Homo sapiens: one gene and its partners. The protein of the gene in region 1 purifies or fractionates together with the protein of each later gene. This does not show direct contact. Each region holds a gene or a part of one and is shown on either strand. Other genes may lie near its edges. The genes, in order: LURAP1, UTRN, CDC42BPG, KIF3A, GTPBP6, TBC1D2B and SNAP29.

Region 1 (3,500 bases):
ATATTCTGATAGTCCCCGCTCTGGGAGCTCGGACTGGGATTTCCAGGCTTTTACCCTAGGGCCTGATTTATATTGAGCAATGAGGAAACCATACAGGACCCCAGCGCTGGGCAGAGAGTCTGGTATGTAGATGTTAAGGAGAGGAGTAGGGAGCCTGAATCTCCTTGGAAGGAGAATTGGGTTTGGAGTCGCCTCTGAGGCTGCATCTCTCCTGAGCTGTTTATCCTATACTCTATTTTCTTCAAGAGATGGTGTGAAAAGAGTGTTTCTTTTTCTGGCAAGAAAACCTTGCTTTCTTCTATTCTGGGAGTGATGCTGTCACAGTCAGGGAATCCCACTGCCACAGGATTATAGAATCTGCTCTCAGATTTATTTCCCAGCAACACACTACAACCCAGACCCCTGAATCCTGGGAACCATCAAAGGGGTCAAGGATAGTAAAGGCAAGAGAATCACAGAACTGAATGTGACCTCCTTAGCACTGGGCCAAGCACCAGAAATGGATTGGGCAGGATCTGCTCTCAGGGAGCTCACAGTCTGGTTAGGGAAGGAGGAGACAGAAGAACATTTCTAGTACAGGATGATAAGTGCTGGTAGAACCCAGGAAGGGCCTCCTGGAAGAGTCTTCACTGTAGAGTGATGTGGTTGGGTTTGTGCTCTAGAAAGTCGATTTCAAATTGGAAGGAGGCACAGGCTGTTTCCTCTGCTTGAAATGCTTCTCTCCACCTCTTTGTCTGGCTGAGTCCTTCTATTTTTTTTTTTTTGACACAGGGTTTCACTCCCATCACCCAGGCTGGAGTGCAATGGTACAATGTCGGTTCACTGCAACCTCTGCCTTCCAAGCTCAAGCGGTTCTCCTGCCTCAGCTTCCTGAGTAGCTGGGACTATGGGCATGTGCCACCACACCTAGCTAGCTTTTGTATTTTTAGTAGAGACGGGATTTTGCCATGTTGGCCAGGCTGGTTTCGAAGTCCTGACCTCAAGTGATCTTCTGCCTCAGCCTCCCAAAGTGCTGGGATTACAGGTGTGAGCCACTGCGCCCATCCTAGCTGAGTCCTTCTTAACCTTAAATTTTCAGCTCATGTCCCTTATCCTAGGAAGCATTTCCTGACCTGGTTAGGTTATGGCCCTCTAGGTATCTACAGTCCTCTGTATAGCAGTTGTTTCCACTAGCGTTTGCCACACTGAACTTTTCTTTCTTTCTTTCTTTCTTTTTTTTTTTTGAGATGGAGTCTCGCTCTGTCGCCCAGGCTGGAGTGCAGTGGTGCGATCTCGGCTCACTGCAAGCTCCGCCTCCTGGGTTCAGCCCATTCTCCTGCCTCAGCCTCCCGAGTAGCTGGGACTACAGGCACCTGCAAACACACCCAGCTAATTTTTTGTATTTTTAGTAGAGACGGGGTTTCACCATGTTAGCCAGGATGGTCTCGATCTCCTGACCTCGTGATCTGCCTGCCTCGGCCTCCCAAAGTGCTGGGATTACAGGCATGAGCCACTGCACCTGGCCTGAACTTTTCATTTTTAAATTATTTATTTATTATCATTATTTTTTTTGACACGGAGTTTCGTTCTTGGCGTCCAGGCTGGAGTGCAATGGCGTGATCTCGGCTCACTGCAACCTCTGCCTCCCGGGTTCAAGCGATTCTCCTGCCTCAGCTTCCTGAGTAGCTGGGATTACAGGCACCCGCCTAGTTAATTTTTGTATTTTTAGTAGAGATGGGGTTTCACCACGTTGGCCAGGCTGGTCTTGAACTCCTGGCCTCAAGTGATCTGCCTGCTTTGGCCTCCCAAAGTGCTGGGATTACAGGTGTGAGCCACCCCACCAGCCTTATTTATTTTTTTAATAGAGACAGGGTCTTGCTATGTTGCCCAGGCCAGTCTCAAACTCCTGGCCTCAAGCAGTCCGTTTGTGTCAGCCTCCCGAAGTTCTGGGATTGCAGGCTGAGCCACAATGCCAAGCCAACCACACTGAATTTTAAGTGCTTGCTTCATTGTCTTATCTTACCCACTAGATTATGAACCTTCTGAAGGTAAGAAATGATGCCTTTTCTTTCTTCATCGAACATAGTGCCACACCAATAAGAAACAATAAATATTGGTTCCATAACTGAATGGATTAATTCCATCTCGAGGAAGGGCAAGGAAGACTTCCTCGAGGAGGTGACATTTGAGCTGGGGCTTGAAGAATGAATAAAGTCAGTGGGAATTCCAGTTCAAGATACCAGATTGAGGGCCGGCACGGTGGCTCATGCCTGTAATCCCAGCATTTTGGGAGGCCGAGGCGGGCGGATCACCTGAGGTCAGGAGTTCGAGACCAGCCTGACCAACATGGTGAAACCCCATCTCTACTAAAAATACAAAAATTAGCTGGACGTGGTGGTGCACCTGTAATCCCAGCTACTAGGGAAGCTGAGGCAGGAAAATCGCTTGAACCCTGGAGGCGGAGGTTGCAATGAGCCAAGATCGTGCCACTGCACTCCAGCCTGGACGACTGTGCAAAACTCTGTCTCAAAAAGAGAAAAATAAATAAATAAAATAAATAAAAGGCATGAAGCCGTTATGACAATGAGAATAAGAGACAAGGTAATAGGAACAAAATTTTGGAAACTGAAATTCAGAAGGAAGAGTGGTAACTAACTCAGACCTAAAAAATGCTCAGTCCCGAGCCAGCAGTGGGGAAAGCTGAAAAGCAACACTTTTTTATTTTGTGGGGGATAGAGTTTTGCTCTTGTTGCCCAGGCTGGAGTGCAATGGCGCAATCTTGGCTCACCGCAACCTCCGCCTCCTGGATTCAAGCAATTCTCCTGCCTCAGCTTCCCAAGTAGCTGGGATTACAGGCATGTGACACCATGCCCAGCTAATTTTGTATTTTTCGTAGAGATGGGGTTGCTCCATGTTGGTCAGGCTGGTCTCGAACTCCCGAACTCAGGTGATCCATCCGCCTTGGCCTCCCAAAGTGCTGGGATTACAGAGCCACCGCCCCCTGCCAAAGCAACACATTTTATACTGCAAAAACCCTTAAAGGTCTTAGGGGTTGGAAGCACCAGGTATTTCTGGAACTGGGGGCACAAGTGGGGCTGAAAACAAAAGGGCTGGTTGAATGTTTAAAAGTCATATTCTAAGATCCCCTCCCTAACTGTGCAACCAGGTGCCACCTAATTCTTTATCTAGCAGAAGACTGGAGATGTAAGTTCTGTTGTTGTTTTCTTTTTTTTTTTCTTTTTTTTTTTTTGAGATGGAGTCTCGCTCTGTTGCCCAGGCTAGAGTGCAGTGGCCCAATCTCAGCTCACTGCAGCCTCAGCCTCCCGAGTAGCTGGGATTACATGCACCCGCCACCACACAGCTAATTTTTGTATTTTTAGTAGAGACGGGGTTTTGCCATGTTGGCCAGGCTGGTCTTGAACTCCTGACCTCGGGTAATCCACTTGCCTCAGCCTCCCAAAGTGCTGGGATTACAAGCATGAGCCACCATGCACGGCTGTAGATGTAAATTTTGGAAAGAG
Region 2 (3,500 bases), on another chromosome or scaffold:
GTCCCTGGAACGATTTGCCTTCCCACTCTGACACTGTCAATGGCCTATCTCTGACTTTTGACTTCAAATGTCAAAAACCTGCAAAAAGTAGTTTCATGTATTCAGCAATTTACTACTACCTGGGCTATTTCTACCACCCCAACCAAGTTACTACTATAATCTAATCAACAGTCTGTATTTCACACAGGCCCTCCATGCCTGAAACATTATTTTGACCATTTTTAAGCAATTTTCTCTTATCTTCAAGGTCCAGTTTACTCTACTTTTGACTTTGCTTCCAGGCAAAAGGAAATAAATGTGCTCTCTAGCACATTAAAAGTACATCTTTGATAAGTCCCAACTTAAATACATAATAAATGGGGATCTAGAAAGAATGTAAAATATTTAAATAATAAATACGTGAATCTTATAAGATAATTACTATTTACCCCGTAATAAACTTAAACTCCCAGTGGCCTCTGGATTTACCTCAAAAGCTCTGAGTGTGAGAGCAATTTCCTCAAGCAAATGTAGATCTTTGGAAACCAAGACCTTTAGCTTGTTCCACTTTCCTTGCACATCATCAAATTCTTGCTTATATAATTTTTCTACATCAGGATGAACATTTTTCTCCAGAGCCTTTGTTTCTTCTGCAAGTTTATGTAATGCAGGTTTCTGATTCTCAAGGATTTCATCAAGGGTCTGGAAAAAGTTTTAAAAGATTAAAAATATGCACAAAAATGTGTCTGCACAGATATAGTAAAATGGGCTATATAAAGTCAAAAGTCACTTTAAAATGCATTAGAAAGCATTTTTATCTAAAAAGAACAGTGGGTGGGAGTGTGAATTAGTTCAACCACTGTGGAAGACAGTGTGGTGATTCCTCAAAGACCTAAAACCAGAAATGCCATTTGACCCAGCAATCTCACTGGGTATATACCCAAAGGAATACAAATCATTCTGTTATAAAGATATATGCACACTATGTTCATTGCAGCACAATTCACAATAGCAAGGACAAGGAATCAACCCAAATGCCCATCAATGATAGACTACTTAAAGAAAATGTGGTACATATCAACCATGGAATACTATGCAGCCATAAAAAGGAACAAGATCATGTCCTTTGCAGGTATATGGATGGAGCTGGAAGCCATTATCCTCGGCAAACTAATTCAGAAACAACAAAAAAAAATACCGCATATTCTCACTTATAAGTGGGAGCTGAATAATGAGAACATACGGACACATGGTGGGGAAAAACACACACTGGGGTCTGTTGGAGGGTGGGGCATGGTGGGAGGGAAAGCATCAGGAAGAAGAGCTAATGGATGCTGGGCTTAATACGTAGTGCAGCAAACTACCATGACACACGTTTACCCATTTAACAAACCTGCACATCCTGCACAAGTACCCCTGAACTTAAAATAAAAGTTGGAAATCAAAAAACAAAACAAAACAAAACATGAAAAACTCATGAAAAAAATAGGCATAATCATAAAAATTAAAGCTTTTTCTTCATGAGTTGTGTGTGGGCAATACAGTGTATTCTCAACCCTAAAAACCAAGGGAACAGCAAACCCAGTGTGGGCCAAGTGTGCAGTGCTCAATGGCTGCTCTCCTTTTCATCTAATAGCACAGAGCCATAAGGCTACTCAACTAAATGACCTCGGAAACATTCCTATTCGATGCAGAAAAAAGTATACATCAACACGTCAACTGATAGTCCTCATTTCATAAAGATATTTTAGCAGATTTTATGAACAGGTTGAGAATTTTAAGCTAATCACAGCAGAAGGAGAAAATATGCTTTTCTTCTATGAAAAAATTTTTAATAACTGTACTTTCTTTTATGTGAGGTCAAACTAACCCTCAAATCATAAACACATTTTTGCACCAATGATGAACAAAACTGACCAACTTTTTTTTTAATCTCTGAAAAAACATTTCAAAATATGTAAGAGGAGATATTAGAAGAAGCGCTAGAGTTCTAACATGGAAGATATATGTTACCTTTTTTTCTTGCAGGGCCTTCTCCACCTTGGCAAGATCATTAAGGACATTCAGAGACACCTGGGCCTTATTTTCTGAATCATTTAGCACATCTTTCAGTGTTTTCAATGTTTCCAGATATGCATGTCCAGGTTGGCCCTTCAGTTCTGTTTATTTAAAAATATTTAGTTTGAAAAAATCATATTAGGAACCAATATTATTACATAGACCATTATCCTAAATGAATTCCAATACATGGCAAAGGAGACCCCATGATTAAAATGTAAAAGGGTCTCTGTTAATTAACAACATAGATCATTCCATTGGCATTTCTGAGAGTCAGACAGTGACTTCATTCCTGCGGATGTTGACGTTTGAAATATTAACTAACCCACTATAATTTTTCTTCATTTCTTCATGATGAAATGTCTCTCTGAAGATGGAACAACAATGTCCCTTTTGTTCCATATAATCTCCTCTTCCTTAACAGCTACACAAAGAATAAAAGAAAACAAAGATCCCTTCAACCAGTCTTGCTGTAAGCTCCACCGTGTAGACAAACCCAGGTCCAGAGTGGAGGAGATTATATGGAAATACTGCCACCATGCTGCCCAGGTACCCTGAGAAATAATGACTGAACAGCCAGCTGGAACAGTGTCTACCTCAGTCACTAATGTAAAAATATCACAGAAGTAACACTTGCGTGGAAAGGAAGTGAGTTCTCTTGAAGCACAAAGAGGTGAAACCAACTAGCAGCAAAAGTTAAACTGCCTACTGATCCTTGTCAAAAGTGAAAGCACAGCTTGTACCAATAAGTGGAGAAAGAGGTACCCTCAAAGACATATTTCACATAACTGAATTCAAGGAACAAAGACATGCTGTCCAGATGCACTTTCAGAAGAAAGGCAATACGACACATTTGCCTAGCATGCACACATACAGACACTTCCAGTCATCACACAATCTACAATTGCTGAAGTTAGGCTGGGTTACATGTGGAGCATTTCACACAATGCTCAATGCATTTCACAAAATAATGCACAATGCAACACAGTTCCTAACTCAAATGGCAGCTAGGAAGTAAATAGTGTAACGTAGGAGGGATGAGCTTTCAAAATCTTTAACAGTGAACCTTCCAAAACCAAGTGTATTCCAAAAGTAAGAACTCTAAAATTTTTCTGAATCTGACAGTGGAATATGATTTCTTTTAAAAGACAGTATGAGACTGCCAAAACTTTAACTATTTTGAGGAAACAGAAGTAAGGGATCATTCATTTTGATCCTCCTAGCAATGATATTAAGTGGCCTCCTCAACCAAAGGAAGAAATTGCACCTGTTTCTCAAAAAAAAAAAAAAAAAAAATCTTTAAAAATCATTATATCCAGGTCAGGTACAATGGCTGACACCTGTTATCCCTGGTATTTTGGGAGGCTAACATCTGTTATTTTGCCTAACACCTGTTATTTTGGGAGGCTGTTATATCACCTGTTATAATGGCTTACACCTGTTATTTTGGGAGGCTGAGGTGG
Region 3 (3,500 bases), on another chromosome or scaffold:
CTCCGCCTCCCAGATTCAAGCGATTCTCCTGTCTCAGCCTCCAGAGTAGCTGGGATTGCAGGCATGCACCACCTCGCCTGGCTATTTTTTGTATTTTTAGTAGAGACGGGGTTTCAGCATGTTGGCCAGGCTGGTCTCGAACTCCTGACCTCAGGTGATCCACCCACCTTGGCCTCCCAAAGTGCTGGAATTATAGGCATGGGCCACCGTGCCCAGCTGGAACAAAGGCTTTAGAAAGAGAGAAACGAAGGTTCAGTCCTGGCTGTCTCACTACAAGCTGGGGGACTGGGGGAGCTGCTGTAGAACCACCCAGAGCCTCATAACATCTCCTGGGTGGAGCTGCGAAGAGCTTCACTTGTGCTCAGCCTTGAACCTGGGGCTCAGCAGGGCTCTTCTGTAACTAAGGCTGGGAAAGAGGCATGAAACAGAGCTCCTTGGCGTTCCCCAGCAGCTGAGGCCCTGAGCCAGGCCCGGCTCTCAGGGCGGGAGACACAGGAGAGGTTGTGCGGGTCCCTGGAGCAGTCGGGAACCAGAGGGGAGGGGATTTATTGAGCAAGGGGCTCTGCTGAACCCTCCCCTGCATCACTTCCTCGCTTCCTCAGAGTTGCTCTGTGAGGAAGTACCATCGTTGTCCCCAGTTTACATAAGGAAACCAAGGCTCTGAGAGGTGACATGACTTACCCAAAATCCCACAGCTCAAGATGATGGGCCTCACCCCAACCCCTCTGGAAAAGCCTGTCCAGACTGGGAGAGAAGGGTCAGTGAGGCAGGGACAGCGGGATTATTGCCACCCCCATTTCCTCAAGATAAACAGGCACAGCAGGGCAGGTGGACTGCCCAATCTCCGTGTCATTGAGTGGGACTGCTGACCTCTGACCCTCTGCCTCCCTCTACCAGACCAGGATCGACTTGCGCTTGGCACCGAGGAGGGGCTCTTTGTCATCCATCTGCGCAGCAACGGTACCTATCAAAGCTGGGCTAGGGTGGGCGTGGGCAGGGGCAGCCCCAGCGGGCAGAGGAGGATGGGGATGGGTCACTCTTCAACCACCTGCCAGTGACACTCTCCCCTCGCCAACCCTGCAGACATCTTCCAGGTGGGGGAGTGCCGGCGCGTGCAGCAGCTGACCTTGAGCCCCAGTGCAGGCCTGCTGGTCGTGCTGTGTGGCCGCGGCCCCAGCGTGCGTCTCTTTGCCCTGGCGGAGCTGGAGAACATAGAGGTAGCAGGTGCCAAGATCCCCGAGTCTCGAGGCTGCCAGGTGCTGGCAGCTGGAAGCATCCTGCAGGCCCGCACCCCGGTGCTCTGTGTAGCCGTCAAGCGCCAGGTGCTCTGCTACCAGCTGGGCCCGGGCCCTGGGCCCTGGCAGCGCCGCATCCGTGAGCTGCAGGCACCTGCCACTGTGCAGAGCCTGGGGCTGCTGGGCGACCGGCTATGTGTGGGCGCCGCCGGTGGCTTTGCACTCTACCCGCTGCTCAACGAGGCTGCGCCGTTGGCGCTGGGGGCCGGTTTGGTGCCTGAGGAGCTGCCACCATCCCGCGGGGGCCTGGGTGAGGCACTGGGTGCCGTGGAGCTTAGCCTCAGCGAGTTCCTGCTACTCTTCACCACTGCTGGCATCTACGTGGATGGCGCAGGCCGCAAGTCTCGTGGCCACGAGCTGTTGTGGCCAGCAGCGCCCATGGGCTGGGGTAAGGCCTGCTGAGGGCTTGGCAGGGGGGCCAGGCACCTTCAGTGGGTGGGTGAAGACAGGGTCCCGCCTCAACTCATGAGCCTGGCATTGGAGGCCTTTGGTGCCAGTTTGCATCCTCCAGCCCAACAACACCCTGTCCCACCCTCTGTGGCTTGCAGGGGACCTTCCTTTTCCATGGCTGAGCTCATGCTCCTCTCCTGCCTGAGCCGCTCTCCTTTTGTTTCTATCTAGCAAACTTTTTTTTTCTTTTGAGACAGGGTCTCTGTCTGTCACCAGGCTGGAGTACAGTGGCACAATCTCGACTCACTGCCACCTCCGCCTCCTGGGGTCAAGTGATCCTCCCACCTCACCCTCTCGAGTAACTGGGGGCACAGGTGTGTGCCATCACGCCTGGCTAATTTTTGTTTTGTTTTGTTTGAGACAGAGGAGTCTCACTCTGTCGCCAGGCTGGAGTGCAGTGGTGTGATCTCGGCTCACTGCAACCTTTGCTTCCCGGGTTCAGGTGATTCTCCTGCCTCAGCCTCCCTAGTAGCTGGGACTACAGGTGCACGCCACCACACCCAGCTAATTTTTGTATTTTTAGTGGAGACGGGGTTTCACCATGTTGGCCAGGCTGGTCTCAAACTCCTGACCAAGTGATCCACCTGCCTTGGCCTCCCAAAGTGCTGGGATTACAGGCGTTAGCCAACGCGTCCAGCCTAATTTTTGTATTTTTTCAGAGATGGGGTTTCGCCATATTGCGCAGGCTGGGAGTCTCAAACTCCTGAACTCAAGCAATCCTCCCGCGCGGCCTCCCAAAGTGCTGGGATTACAGGTGTGAGCCACCGGCCCCGGCCTGTACCTGGCAAACTCTTAACTAGGTACCACCCCAGTGTCAGCTCAGGGCCTGGAGCTGGTAGGCGCTCCAAAGATAACCGCTGCGATTGCTGTGGTCACCATTGCCTTCGTGCTCCCCGCCCTGCTTCCCCGTCATTGGTCCTTTCCTTCTCTTTGCCCCACTCTCTCTCCGTCCAGACCTGTGTCACGGCTCTCATCGCCTCCACTTCATGACTGGCTTGGTGCACTGGGGTCCCACAGAATGGGCCGGGGCTGGTTTCCTCATCCACATCAAGCCCCCAGCCCAGGGTGGCACACTCCAGGGGCGATGGGCTTGGAGGAATGAGTGGAAGAGTGAATGAATGAATGAATGAGGCAGTGGGGCAGTCTGGTGCATGCACAAGTAACTAGCATGATGGGTAAGGGCTGGAAGAGAGGGGCAGAGTGTCCTTCGTGAGCAATGGCTCTTTGGGGTGGGGCCTGCAGGTTGGGTGCCGCATATCACCCAAGCTGCCCAGGGCCAAATCGCAGCTCTCAGGACCAGCTGAGTGACCTGACCTTGACCATCACATGGCTCCAGGGGTTCCATTCCCTCATCTGGAAATTAGGGATTATAACAGTAGTACTTGCTCAGAGTTGTTAGAAAATTAAGGCAGGAAAAGCATGTCGTGTTTAGAACTGAGCCAGGCATGTGGTGAGTGGTCCAGGGTTATCTCTGATTTGATGTGGAGGCTGGGCCGGGCGACAGGGAGTCTTCAGAGGAAGGACCTTAGCGTGGGGCATGGTAGTTACTGTGCTGTGGCAGGGGACAAGGTGTTCCCTGTGGAACAGAGGGGGAAACAGCTCAGAGGTGCCTGGCGTGCCCGCAGGGTATGCGGCCCCCTACCTGACAGTGTTCAGCGAGAACTCCATCGATGTGTTTGACGTGAGGAGGGCAGAATGGGTGCAGACCGTGCCGCTCAAGAAGGTGAGGGTCCGCCAGAGCCCTGGGGTAGCGCC
Region 4 (3,500 bases), on another chromosome or scaffold:
GGCAGCTTTAAGAAAAACAGCAACAGTTTTTATGTCCAAGGAAATTTATAGTGTGTCAGGGCTTCTTACTCACCAACCTTTATTAAGTACATTTTAGATACTGGGATTAGAAGATGATGTCATTAGACATTTCTTTGGTTTTAGCTTCTGTGGGTTTGATCAAGGAGTTTATTCAGTATTTTAAATCTTCCCCCAAATCTGGCTTTAACTCTTTGCCTTAAGAGTGCTTTGTGTTTGTTTCTTTTACTTAGCCCTTTGAGGTGGACCTTTCTCACGTGTATCTTGCCTATACTGAGGAGAGTCTGCGTCAGTCTTTGATGAAACTAGAAAGACCACGAACTTCAAAGGGGAAAGCAAGGCCAAAGACAGGGAGAAGGTAAGGACTGTCCTTGAATCTGGTAAAACGAAGGCATTGAGGTATTCTAATTAGATACATGTACAGGAAGTTAAAATTTATTTAGTTAAAACATGATACATATTTTGGCTGATTTATTAAAAATCAAATTCCTGGCTGGGCACAGTGGCTCACGCCTGTAATCCCAGCATTTTGGGAGGCCGAGGCAGGTGGATCATTTGAGGTCAGGAGTTTGAGACCAGCCTGGCTAACATAGTGAAACGCTGTCTCTACTAAAAATACAAAAGTTAACCAGGCATGGTGGCGCATGCCTGTAATCCCAGCTACTGGGGAGGCTGAGGCATGAGAATCGCTTGAACCCAGGAGCCGGAGGTTGCAGTTAGCCGAGATCATGAGATCATGCCACTGAACTTCAGCCTGGGTGACAGAGCAAGACTTGGTCTCAAAAAAAAAAAAAAAAAATCAAATTCCTTATGTATTAGAATTTGAGTAAATAAAATCTGGCCAAAGAATTAAGGTCTTCCAACTTCTTAGGCTTCTGAGTAATAGAATTTATTTTTAATTCACTCTGTTATTTCCAAATGTATAATGGGTTTAATTCCTTAATTCTTAGACTAATTCTTCTTATGAAATGCTAATTAATTTGCCTGTTTGGTCTCCCAAGGTATTGTATTCAGCTGGTTAGTTTTTCTGTCAGGTGCCCCAAGAACCTTGATTTCCTCAGTCACCAGCTAAGGAGAACTTCCTTGGACATTTCCCCCTCTCCTTTGGGCACTGGTTTTGACTGTTGGGTAGTCTGCGTGTATCATCACATAAGCTCAGGGAAATCGGGATATGGGAGTCCTGGGCTGGAGCTTATTTTTTTTTCCTTTCCCTTTCCTACATCAAGGACTGTTCAGTTTATTTAAGCTGATTTTAAGACTCTGGGGCTCCTAAAATGTAGGAAATAATAAGCTGCTTTTTTCCCTACTTTGAGTGCATGGACTTTCAAGTTACATGTGGGATGAAGTTGTACGGTTTTGATATCTTTGTGTTACATAATCTCATAGACATGACTTAACACTTATAAATTTGGGATGGTTGAACTCAGGGTTGGGCAAACAGTTGAATATTAAAAATGTACAAATTTTTACATTCTTTAGCATTTAGGTGAGGGGTTAAAAACTTTCCTATACCAACACATGCCAAGCATATTGTAGTGAAGCAAATCAGTTCTAAGAAACATGAGTCCCTTTAGATGTATCTTTTTTTCCATTTTTAATAAAATGACAGTGCAAGTGTGATGATAAATGGTAAGACATTTGTCCCCAGCGTAGGAGAAAAATTGGCAGTGGTGAGCAGTCCTGTCTAAAGTGAGTGGCTGCTATTCTCTTCCTAGTTATCTATGGAAATAGAGGGCTCATTGTTTCTGGATCTTCTGTTTTCTTTTCTTTTCTTTTTTTTGAGATGGAGTCTCACTCTGTTGCCCAGGCTGGAGTGCCCTGAGTAGCTGGGATTACTGGCACCTGCCACCATGCCCAGTTAATTTTAGTATTTTTACTAGAGATGGGGTTTTGCCCTGTTGGCCAGGCTGGTCTCGAACCCCTGACTTCAGGTGATCTGCCCACCTCAGCCTCCCAGAGTGTTATGATTACAGGCATGAGCCACCGTGCCTGGCCTGGATCTTCTCTTTTCTAAGGAAAAGCCAGAAATTCGAATTATTTACTTGAGATCTGTCAATTTTACTTTTTTTTTTTTTAACTATATGGACCCTAAAGCAAATGAATAAATAATATGATATTTGAATACGTTTTCCAGAACATCCATTTTAAGATACGTCATTTTTTTAGTTTAACATTAAAAAAATCGTGTGGCCCAACATTATATGAGCCAAACTCACCATCTCTGTATACTGGAATTGGCCTGCTATAACCATGGAAACCCTAAGAAAATGGTAGCCATAAACATGGACAAATACATGCATTAAATGGTTTATTGATGCTATGTTACATTATATGATATGTTCAATGTGATGTTCCTTGTTAGAAACACATAGTTAGATGGGCTAGGCAAAATTGCAATAAATATAATACATTAATGTAGCATTTCCATAAGTCCCTACATATGCATCAGGTATTGCCTGAGATGATTTGTTTCTGATTTCCTCTGAATCCACTTGCACCTTTTGAGTACCTCAGAAGAGATAATCAGGAAGTTCAAATCTGGCAAGCATGCAGCTCACTTGGCCTGGCCACATGACCTAGTCTAGTCTTGGAAATTATCACCTGTCCTATCCTTCACTATCTGGCATAATGGGGTGGGCTGCCATCCTCTTGCATTTACTTTAAGTTAGCTTCCCGTAGCCTGAAAAGGCGAGCATTAATTGAACACTTACCATGGTCAAACGTGTCAAATTTTGGCTTGTTTCCAGACTATACAGGCCACCCCATAGTTTCTATATAATGTTAAATGTTTGCATTTCAGTCTTTTAGGAAAGCATTCATGATTGCTTTTTTTCTTCTCCAAACAGAAAGCGTTCTGCAAAGCCTGAAACTGTAATTGACTCTTTACTGCAGTAAATGTTACAGACTTAAAGTCACAATAAAAATTAGTGATATTCTCATGCCTGGACAAAATCTTTAATTAAAACAGTGAAGACTTCTCTATAATTTCAATTAATGGAAGTTGTAGATCAATGAATAAGACTGGAAATAATAATTTGCTTAAGAACTTTTAGTCTACATATATTAATATAACATTAAAATTGTACAACTGGTGATTGTTCAAATTGTTGTACTACTACTCTTCAATTGTACTGTGCAGGGAAGTTGGGGGAACAGTTCATACTATAGAGAGTTACAGTTTAGATGTATGTGTAAATCGATTAGCTATTTATCCAACTACTGTATATTTAGGTAACTAGAATTTCAAAATAGAAAAAAAAAAACTGTGTCCTGTTTTGCACATAGAAAGAAGCAGATCAGATTGTCCTATGTTGCGCTGTTATATATGAATGTTTGGACTGTACATCTAAAGAATGATTCCGTCCTAACACCCACCCAGCCTGTTTGAACACATTCTAATTGTCTAACATTTGTTGCATTTTAAGTATGAGATGACTGATCTTATGAATGTTTTGTAGAAAATGTTATAATTTAACAGTCTT
Region 5 (2,269 bases), on another chromosome or scaffold:
TTGTCAGCACAGATTAGGCAACTGTTGTATGCAGTCAGAAATGTATTTTTACTGTCAAGCACAGATTAGGCACCTGTTGTATGCAGTCAGAAATGTACATTTTGACTGTCAGCACAGATTAGGCACCTGTTGTATGCAGTCAGAAATGTACATTTTGACTGTCAGTGCAGATTAGGCACCTGTTGTATGCACAGAAATGTACATTTTGGCTGTCAAGCACAGATTAGGCACCTGTTGTATGGTCAGAAATGTACATTTTCACTGTCAGCATAATTAGGCACCTGTTGTATCCACAGTCAGAAATGTATATTTTGAGTGTCAGCACAGATTAGGCACCTGTTGTATGCAGTCAGAAATGTACATTTTGACTGTCAGCACAGATTAGGCACCTGTTGTATGCAGTCAGAAATGTACATTTTGACTGTCAGCACAGATTAGGCACCTGTTGTATGCAGTCAGAAATGTACATTTTGACTGTCAAGCACAGATTAGGCAACTGTTGTATGCAGTCAGAAATGTATTTTTACTGTCAAGCACAGATTAGGCACCCGTTGTATGCAGTCAGAAATGTACATTTTGACTGTCAGCACAGATTAGGCACCTGTTGTATGCACAGTCACAAATGTAGATTTTGACTCTCAAGCGCAGATTAGGCACCTCTTGTATGCACAGTCACAAATGTACATTTGATGCAAACCCATTCATCTCGTCTGTACATCCTAAAGCTCTCGGGGATCTCACAGCTCCTTGTGCACCCACGAAGAGCCCGTTTCAGAGCCAGAGACAGGCATCCAAAGCACCATCCCGTCTCCTGCCCCTGCAGGCCGCTCACCTGAGCTGCGCCCCTGCGAGCCTCACACGGAGAGTGAGGATCTGTCTCCCCGTCGCCTTCAAAACCGCCGCATCGAGCTCAGCTTTCAGCTCCTGGAGCCCGTGGCCCCGCAGGGCAGACACGGGCACGACGTTCGGTTCCGTGGGGCTGTACCTGCAAGGGTGGGGATGTCACAGGCCCCGCTCAGCGTCGGGGCGGCCGGACGAAATCAGGGTCCCCAGGAGTCCACTGCCCACGGGGCACAGTCTGGGGCCACTCCCTGTGTCCTGACTGCCACCGCTGCGGTTCACACGAGGAGACGGGGCATCTCCCCACCCGGCTCCAGCGCGTGCAGGGGAAGGAGACGCTTGCGGACCCCAGGGCCGGACTCACCCGGGCACGAGGTCCACCTTGTTGTGAACCTCCACCATGGAGTCCAGGAGCGGGGCGGGCAGCTGCAGGCCACGCAGCGTGGACAGAACGCTGCATTTCTGGAGCTCCGCCTCGGGGTGGCTGACGTCCCTCACGTGCAAGATGAGATCCTGTGGGCCGGGCCGTGGGGTCAGAGCTGCGGAGCCTCTGGTCCCTGACCCCAAGCTTGCAGACAGGCCCAGGAGAGGGGCTCACACGAGCTCCCAACGACAGGCTGGGCATGGGAGGTACGCCTGTGTGCAGGCCCCTCGGACACCCCAGGACGGGGGCTCCTAGACCAACAGTGGACGCGAGCCCACCCGGCTGCACTTACCCAACCTTCCAAGCCACAGGCAGCAGCTCCGCACCCCCAGACCCACACGCAAGGGGGTGCCATATATGAGCACCCAACCACCACCCACCCACCCAGGGGGTCTTCATTCAAAGCTTTAGGGCGGCTTCATCCTCCTGTGAAATGTCTTTTAACAGCGGAATTATTTCCTCTTTAAAGGATGCTTTTTTTCTCACGTTCAAAAAAAATCTTACAGGCAGGCTCCTTACACAAAATTTGAAAAACACAGGGAAAAAAAAATAAAGCCGTGTGTAATTCTCCAACTTATACTACCGGGGTATCCACGTCTACTTTTTGTTTGTTTGGATGCACTTAATACAAATAATATTTTTCCTGTAACTGAGGCACTTTGGGAGGTGGCTTGAGCCCAGAAGTTTGAGACCAGCCTGGGCAAGAGAGTGAGGCCGTTTCTACAGAAAGTACAAAAATTAGCCATGGCCTGGTTGTGCGTGTCTGTGGTCTCAGCTACTCAGGAGGCTGAGGTGGGAGGATCACTTGAGCCCAGGAGGTCGAGGCTGCAGTGAGCCGAGATCATACCACTGCGGTTCAGTCTGGGTGACAGAGCGAGACCCTGTCTCTAAAGAAGAAAAGTAAAAACAAAAAAAATAATTTCATCCCAGGAAAGTTTTACTTTTTTTTTTTTTTTTTTTTTGAGACGAGTCTCGCTCTGTCACACAGGCTGGAGTGCAGTGGCG
Region 6 (3,500 bases), on another chromosome or scaffold:
AGGATCACTTGATACCAATAGTTCGAGACCAGCCTAGGCAACAAAGTGAGACCCTATCCCTACAAAAATTAAAAAAAACTAGCCAGGTGTGGCTGGATGTGGTGGCTCACGCCTGTAATCCCAGCACTTTGGGAAGCCGAGGTGGGTGGATCACTTGAGGTCAGGAGTTTGAGACCAGCCTGACCAGCATGGTGAGACCCTGTCTCTACTAAAAATACAAAATTAGCTGGGTGTGGTGGCGGATGCCTGTAATCCCAGCTGCTTGGGAGGCTGAGGCAGGAGAATTGCTTGAACCCAGGAAACAGAGGTTGCAGCAAGCTGAGGTGGCGCCATTGCACTCCAGCCTGGGCGACAAGAGCGAAACTCTGTCTCAAAACAAAAAACAAACTAGCCAGGCATGATGGCACATGTCTTTAGTCCCAGCTACTTGGGAGGCTGAGGCAGGAGGACTGCTTGATCCCAGGAGGTGGACATTGCAGTGAGCTGTGTTTGCTCCACTGTACTCCAGCCTGGGTGACAGAGGGAGACCCTGTTTCAAAAAAATAAAATAGCAAAATAAAAATGTTAAAACTGCCCTTGCCTTGTAGATTGTACAGAAATAGGCAGAGACTGGAAATGACCGCAGGCTGTAGTTCACTGACTTGTGTTCTAGGAAGGCCTCAGGAGCTTCCCACTCATTCACTCACTGTGTGTGCTTAGGCACTGGGGATATGACTGGACAAGACAAACAGTCCCTGTCCTCCTGGAGCTTTCAGTAGGTGGGGGGGACAGACGTTAATAAAATATAACAAACACCAACCAGTGCTAGGAAGTTTGAAAGGAAAGATATGCAATGCATGTATAGTTCAGGATCTTGATCTGGTTTATGGTTGGTGGAGGGCTAGGAAAGACTTTCCTGAAGAAGCGACATTTGAGCTGAGACTCAAAGGATGAGTTGGTGTTGACTGGAGCGGGGGTGGGGGTGGAGAGGAGGAAGTCAAGTGTTGTAGGGAGAGGAAATGGCATAAGCAGAGGCCCTTAGGTGGGGGTGCTGGTTGCATGTGGGACTCAAGGAGTGCCTGGTGGCAACTAGGAGTGAAGGGGACATAGCCTTTGGAAGAGGCAGGCCTTGGGCCAGGGCAGGATTTTGGTCTTCATCTTAAGAGCTAGAGTCAGTAAAGAGTTTTAAGCAGGGTTTGACAAATAGGTTTTTGTTTTCTTTCTTCTGCTCCCAGATAGATTGTTTTAGGCCATTTGTGCTGCTGTGAAAAAATACCGTAGACAGGGTAGCTTATAAACAACAGAAATTTATTTCTCATAGTTCTGGAGGCTGGGAAGCCCAAGATGAAGGCACCAGCAGATTTGGTGTCTGGTGAGGGCTCACTCTGCTTTAGAGGTGGTGCCTTCTAGTGGTGTCCTCATAGCAGAAGGGGACAGACAAGTTCCTTCTGGGGCCTCCATCTATGTATGTTTGTATATATGTATGTATGTATCTATCTATCTAAATGTATTTTTCTCCTCAAATTCCTTTTACCACTCTGGCCTCTTTCATAAGGACCCTGATCTCATTCCAGAGGGCTCTGCCCTCATGACTTAAATCACTTCCCACAAGGCTTCCCTCTTAGTACTATCATCTTGGGGACTGGGTCTCAACACGTGAATTTTGCGGGGACACACGTTTGGACTGTGGCACTGATGGTTTGGTCATGCCTAGTATTTTTATGTAACTAAGTTAGAGGATTATCGTGTTGGGTACAAAGGGTTGATGTATTTATATGTTATGTACTGGCAAACAGATTTAAAAGTAGATAAATGCAAAGCTGAACCTATCTTGAGCAGTTGCTTCTTAATTTTGTTTCTGAGTGGTGGGTGTTGTGATGGGTGAAGCTCGCTTTGGCAGGTGTGTGTGTGGCTAGGGCCGGCCCGCCCTGGTGGACTTCCTTTCCTGAAGCATTCCTAATGGCCCCCGGCATTGACTTCTCTCCTGCTGCACTTGCTTTGCTCATATGCACATTACCAGTTTCCTTCCTCTGTGGAGATGACGATTTCTTGAGAAATGGAAGGAGTATTCAGATGTACCAGCTCCCACCTCACGTCTGAGGGGGGTGGACCAGTCTCCTCGATCAGTTGCTTTTACCTTTGAGCCACTGGGGTGCAGACTTCCCACCTCCAGTCAGAACAAAATACAAACAGTAACACCCCCTTCCTCTAAAGAAAGAAAAAGACCCCCACCATTGTAGAAGTGACTGTCAGTTTGGGAGAGGGAGAGGCATTTTCATTAGCAATTTTCGGTTCTGGTATTTATGTAGTGGGATCTTAATGACATGTGATCGGGTGTTCACCCATATCCTGTCAGGCCAGCCCTCAGCTGGGTTTTGTTTGCTTTCACAGAGTGAATGCAATGTGGAAATGGTAAACTGGGTAGTGGTGACTAGTTAGTGGCTTGTAACTAGTGTTCTGTGAAGTACTTTGCCTGGAGTGCTCAGTTCAGTAAACATCTTGGCATTCAGATATGTGAGGCCATGTGAGGGGCAAGAAGCTGAGAGGATCCCTGGGGAGACTGTGGCTTTCGTGATTGTCCAGCAGGCAGTAGCTCACCAGCCAGCACAGGAGGCCCTCAGTCGGCTACAGATTCAGGATGGTTTTGCTCCTGGTCTAGTCTTTGAGTGTCTGCTGTTGTGTCCTACCAGAGCATCACCTCCTAGGATATTTTGTCAGTGTATTTCACTACTGTGCCTTTCATACTTAGAGGATCCCAGCACCTGTTAGATGCTTGTTGGCTAAATGCATGCTTTAAGCCCTCATATCCTCTGTGTGTGTGTGTGTGTGTGTGTGTGTGTGTGTGTGTGGGTGTGGTGTGTGTGCTTTCATTTCATGGTGAAACGGACGTTTGTAGTGTCCATTTACTCAGCAAATATTTTTGAGCATCTATCATATTCTAAGCACTATGCTGCTTGCTGCAAATACAGCAGTGAAAATTTTCCATTGATTTAAGAAACTGTAGTGTTAACTTTAAAAATAGCTTAGCATCTGATATAATCAAAGAATTGTAAGAGTTTTGAAAAAAACATTGAAGAGGCCCATGTTTGTCTGTAGTATTCAGCACTGAGATAAATATCACATGTCTGCAAGTTTTTTGATTCTGAGAAGTCTGGCACTTCTCCATAGTAAAGGAAGGGGAGGGGGCATCCATATGTAAAATACTAATCTGGATATGGCCCAGGGCCAGAAATCTGTGATTTGTGTAATAATTTTGGTGAACACTGCAGAATTGGAGAGTTCTGTATAACTGATTATCAAGAAAGCTCCCTGAAGAAGATGGGACAAGGGAGTTAGTAAATGTTGGTATAATTGTGTAGCTGCTCAAAGACTTAGTTCCTGTTTGATCAGCAACATGTGTTCCCTGTAAGCTGGGAATCACCATCTTCTAATGAGTTTGCATGCTTGGCCATTTTCTTAGCCTTTGCAGAGATTGCCTGGGAGAACTAGAATCCAGTGTGAGAAGTGGGGATTTGGTAGCT
Region 7 (3,500 bases), on another chromosome or scaffold:
TGGCTCATGCCTGTAATCCCAGCACTTTGGGAGGCCGAGGCGGGTGGTTCGAGACCAGCCGGGCCAACATGGTGAAACCCCGTCTCTACCAAAAATACAAAAAACTAGCCAGGCATGGTGGCAGGCGCCTGGAATCCCAGCTACTCAGGAGACTGAGGCAGGAGAATCGCTTGAACACAGGAGGCAGAAGTTGCAGTGAGCTAATATCACGCCACTGCACTCCAGCCTGGGTGACAGAGCAAGACTCCATCTCAAAACAGAAAAGGAGGTGGAGAAGAGGGGTAGTGGTTGGAAGAAGGAATTCTCCTTTAGGGAAGATGTCTGGGAAGGCCTCTCTGAGAGAGTGGCCTTTGAAAGGAGACCCTAATTGGATGAGGGATGAGAGGCTGAGCCATGTAAGTATCTGGATGGAAAACATTACAGGCGGAGACAGTGGTGTGTGCAAAGGCCCTGGGACAGGGTCACCCGTGTTAACAGGTTTTAAAGCTGGAATTGTGGATGGGCTAGAGTCAGACACTAATAGGGCCCAGAGGGGACACTGGTCCTTGAAATAGAATTTGAGGATTTGACCATGGCCAGGAGGCTCAGGTGGCCCAGTGGGAACTCCTTAAATGGGAACTTCCTAAAGGAAGAATATAAGAACCAAAGTCCAGGGGGCAGTGCCAGGCCCAACCTGTGAGGGTTCCCAGAGTTGGAGGGCTAGAGAGAATCTGCTTCCAGTTCAGGCCATAGACTCTGAACCTCACAGGCACATTGCCATCCATCTCCCCTCACCCCCAACCGAGACGGAGTCTTGCTCTGTCGCCCAGGCTGGAGTACATTGGCACCATCTTGGCTCACTGCAACCTCTGCCTTCAGGGTTGAAGCAATTCTCCTGCCTCAGCCCCCCGAGTAGCTGGGATTACAGGTGCCCGCCACAACACCTGGCTACTTTTTGTATTTTTAGTAGAGAGGGGGTTTCACCATGTTGGCCAGGCTGGTCTTGAACTCCTGACCTCATGATCTGCCCGCCTCAGCCTCCCAAAATGCTGGGATTACGGGTGTGAATCACTGCGCCACCCTCTGCCATCCATCTTAACATGGCGCCATGAGCCAGCCTCTCAGGAAAAGGGTCTCATGAACAAATGAGGAAAGCAAGTAGAGGTAGGGCAGGGAGGGAGAGGCAAAGGAATGTGTTGTTGGAAAGGGTAGTGTGCCCCTCACAGATGACAGTACCCGTCTCCAGATGTGCCCACTGAGAGTTTATGAAGGGGCTGCTCCATGTGGTCCTTGACTGCCCTGGGGGAGAGTCACAGAAAGCTATAATGCCACTGCCTCTCGGTTTCCCCAGGAGCTCGCCCGTCAGCGAGGAGTCCTGGAGCGCACAGAGAAGATGGTGGACAAGATGGACCAAGATTTGAAGATCAGCCAGAAACACATCAATAGCATTAAGAGCGTGTTTGGGGGGCTGGTCAATTACTTCAAATCCAAACCAGTAGAGACCCCACCTGAACAGAATGGCACCCTCACCTCCCAGCCCAACAACAGGTGAGTGCATCTTCTACCATCTGGGTATAAAGGAGCAGAAGTGGGGATTAGTGCAAATGACCAAGACTTTCAGTCCACGTCAGTGCCATGAAGGGATCCAACAACCCTTTAAGTTACTCATCAGGGGATATTTGTCCTCAAACATTGTGAAACCAGGAACTGTTCTTCCCTGATCCCATGTTCACTTGATTGACATCTAGTCTGTCAATAGCTTCTCCAATAATTGTGACCCCACTACTTTGAAAGAGAGGGTGTTCACCTCAGCGTAATCTGTACAAATGTGACTCACTTCACATAATTTTTGCTTTAAAAAATCTTTAGGGCTGGGTGCAGTGGCTCACACCTGTAATCCCGACACTTCAGGATGCCAAGGTGGGTAGATTGCTTAAGCCCAGGAGCTCGAGACCAGCCTGGGCAACATAGTGGGAACCCAGTCTTTACAAAAATTACCCAGGCATTGTGGTGCACACCTGTAGTCCCAGCTCCTCAGGAGGCTGAGGTAAGAGGATCTCATGAGGCCTGGAGATCAAGGCTGCAGTGAGCTGTAATGGTGCACTCCAACCTGGGCTACAGAGGGAGGCCCTGTCTCAAGAAAAAAAAAAAAAAAAGTCTTTATGTCTAAATTTGTCATATCTAATCCAATTCGCCCATTGATTTTTATTTGAAAATTATAAGGCTGGGCTCAGTGGCTTATCTGTAAAATCCCATGCTTTCAGAGGCTAAGGTAGGAGGATTGTTTGAGACCAGCCTAGACAACATAGCAAAGACCCGTCTCTATAAAAACTAAAAAAAAAAAAAAATTAGCCAGACATGATGGCACGTGCCTATATTCCTAGCTACAGGGGAGACTGAGGTGGAAGGATTGCTTTAGCCCAGGTGTTAGAGACTAGAGTTAAGCTATGATGGTGCCACTGCACTACAGCATCAGTGACAGAGTCTCCCTGTCTCTAAAAAAAAAAAAAAAAAAAAAAAGATTTAAAGCTAAATAATTAAAATCAAAAAAATAAAGTTAGAAGTTGCTTTCCTCAGGTTTTGGCTCGAAATATAAAATCATACATGAGACTGGGGGCCAGGCACGGTGGCTCACGCCTATAATCCTAGCACTTGGGGAGGCCGAGGCGGGTGGATCACCAAGTCAGGAAATCAAGACCATCCTGGCTAACATGGTGAAACCCTGTCTCTATTAAAAATACAAAAAATTAGCTGGGCGTGATGGCGGGCGCCCGTAGTCCCAGCTACTCGGGAGGCTGAGGCAGGAGAATGGTGTGAACCCGGGAGGTGGAGCTTGCAGTGAGCTGAGATCATGCCACTGCACTGCAGCCTGGGCGACAGAGCAAGACTCCGTCTCAAAAAAAAAAAAATTCATGAGATTTTGGTAGACTTCAGTGTTACATGTTCAAGGATAAAGGAATGGAGTTTCTGCTGAAGTAGATTACTATTGTTTGTATTTCAGATCACTGTGTCTGTTTTTATTACAAAAACAACATGGCCACATTACAGACAATCTATACTTTACCTACCGCAACACAAAAACAGAAAATTTCATTTTCCCCTTATTCAGTATTTTCATAGTTGTAACCATAGTATTCTTTTGGTTTGATAGCCTTTTTCTTCCATTTAACCCAGAAAAACTGCTTGATATTATGTGATAACTCAGGTTCCATAACCATCTCTCTCTCTCTCTTTTATTTATTTATTTTTTATTTTATTTATTTATTTTTTTTGAGATGGAGTTTCACCCTTGTTGCCCAGGCTGGAGTGCAAAGACGTGATCTCAGCTCACTGCAACCTCTGCCTTCCAGGTTAAAGCGATTCTCCTGCCTCAGCCTCCCAAGTAGCTGGGATCACAGGTGCCCACACCATGCCTGGCTAATTCTTTTTTTTTGAGACGGAGTCTCACTCTGTCACCCAGGCTGGAGTGCAGTGGTGCGATCTCGGCTCACTGCAAGCTCCGCCTCCCGGGTTCATGCCGT

What was found.
Region 2: the proteins of LURAP1 (region 1) and UTRN purify together in Homo sapiens (co-immunoprecipitation; 2 studies listed by BioGRID and IntAct, with this or other methods). This does not show direct contact.
Region 3: the proteins of LURAP1 (region 1) and CDC42BPG purify together in Homo sapiens (co-immunoprecipitation; 2 studies listed by BioGRID and IntAct, with this or other methods). This does not show direct contact.
Region 4: the proteins of LURAP1 (region 1) and KIF3A purify together in Homo sapiens (affinity purification with mass spectrometry; one large-scale study listed by BioGRID and IntAct). This does not show direct contact.
Region 5: the proteins of LURAP1 (region 1) and GTPBP6 purify together in Homo sapiens (affinity purification with mass spectrometry; one large-scale study listed by BioGRID and IntAct). This does not show direct contact.
Region 6: the proteins of LURAP1 (region 1) and TBC1D2B purify together in Homo sapiens (co-immunoprecipitation; 2 studies listed by BioGRID and IntAct, with this or other methods). This does not show direct contact.
Region 7: the proteins of LURAP1 (region 1) and SNAP29 purify together in Homo sapiens (co-immunoprecipitation; 2 studies listed by BioGRID and IntAct, with this or other methods). This does not show direct contact.

Annotation. Positions count from the first base shown.
Region 1 is NC_000001.11:46,206,334-46,209,833, forward strand, and holds part of LURAP1 (leucine rich adaptor protein 1), read left to right. Parts: intron 1-3,500. UniProt on the Homo sapiens protein: Acts as an activator of the canonical NF-kappa-B pathway and drive the production of pro-inflammatory cytokines. Promotes the antigen (Ag)-presenting and priming function of dendritic cells via the canonical NF-kappa-B pathway.
Region 2 is NC_000006.12:144,459,835-144,463,334, reverse strand, and holds part of UTRN (utrophin), read right to left. Parts: intron 2,139-3,500; coding exon 1,993-2,138; intron 682-1,992; coding exon 469-681; intron 1-468.
Region 3 is NC_000011.10:64,827,654-64,831,153, reverse strand, and holds part of CDC42BPG (serine/threonine-protein kinase MRCK gamma), read left to right. Parts: intron 1-806; coding exon of another isoform or gene 807-876; exon of another isoform or gene 877-897; coding exon 898-960; intron 961-1,083; coding exon 1,084-1,683; intron 1,684-3,370; coding exon 3,371-3,468; intron 3,469-3,500. UniProt on the Homo sapiens protein: May act as a downstream effector of CDC42 in cytoskeletal reorganization. Contributes to the actomyosin contractility required for cell invasion, through the regulation of MYPT1 and thus MLC2 phosphorylation.
Region 4 is NC_000005.10:132,696,047-132,699,546, reverse strand, and holds part of KIF3A (kinesin-like protein KIF3A), read left to right. Parts: intron 1-251; coding exon 252-376; intron 377-2,864; coding exon 2,865-2,913; 3' UTR 2,914-3,500. UniProt on the Homo sapiens protein: Microtubule-based anterograde translocator for membranous organelles. Plus end-directed microtubule sliding activity in vitro. Plays a role in primary cilia formation. Plays a role in centriole cohesion and subdistal appendage organization and function.
Region 5 is NC_000023.11:306,528-308,796, forward strand, and holds part of GTPBP6 (putative GTP-binding protein 6), read right to left. Parts: intron 1,354-2,269; coding exon 1,205-1,353; intron 986-1,204; coding exon 833-985; intron 1-832.
Region 6 is NC_000015.10:78,067,712-78,071,211, reverse strand, and holds part of TBC1D2B (TBC1 domain family member 2B), read left to right. Parts: intron 1-3,500. UniProt on the Homo sapiens protein: GTPase-activating protein that plays a role in the early steps of endocytosis.
Region 7 is NC_000022.11:20,869,007-20,872,506, forward strand, and holds part of SNAP29 (synaptosomal-associated protein 29), read left to right. Parts: intron 1-1,330; coding exon 1,331-1,527; intron 1,528-3,500. UniProt on the Homo sapiens protein: SNAREs, soluble N-ethylmaleimide-sensitive factor-attachment protein receptors, are essential proteins for fusion of cellular membranes.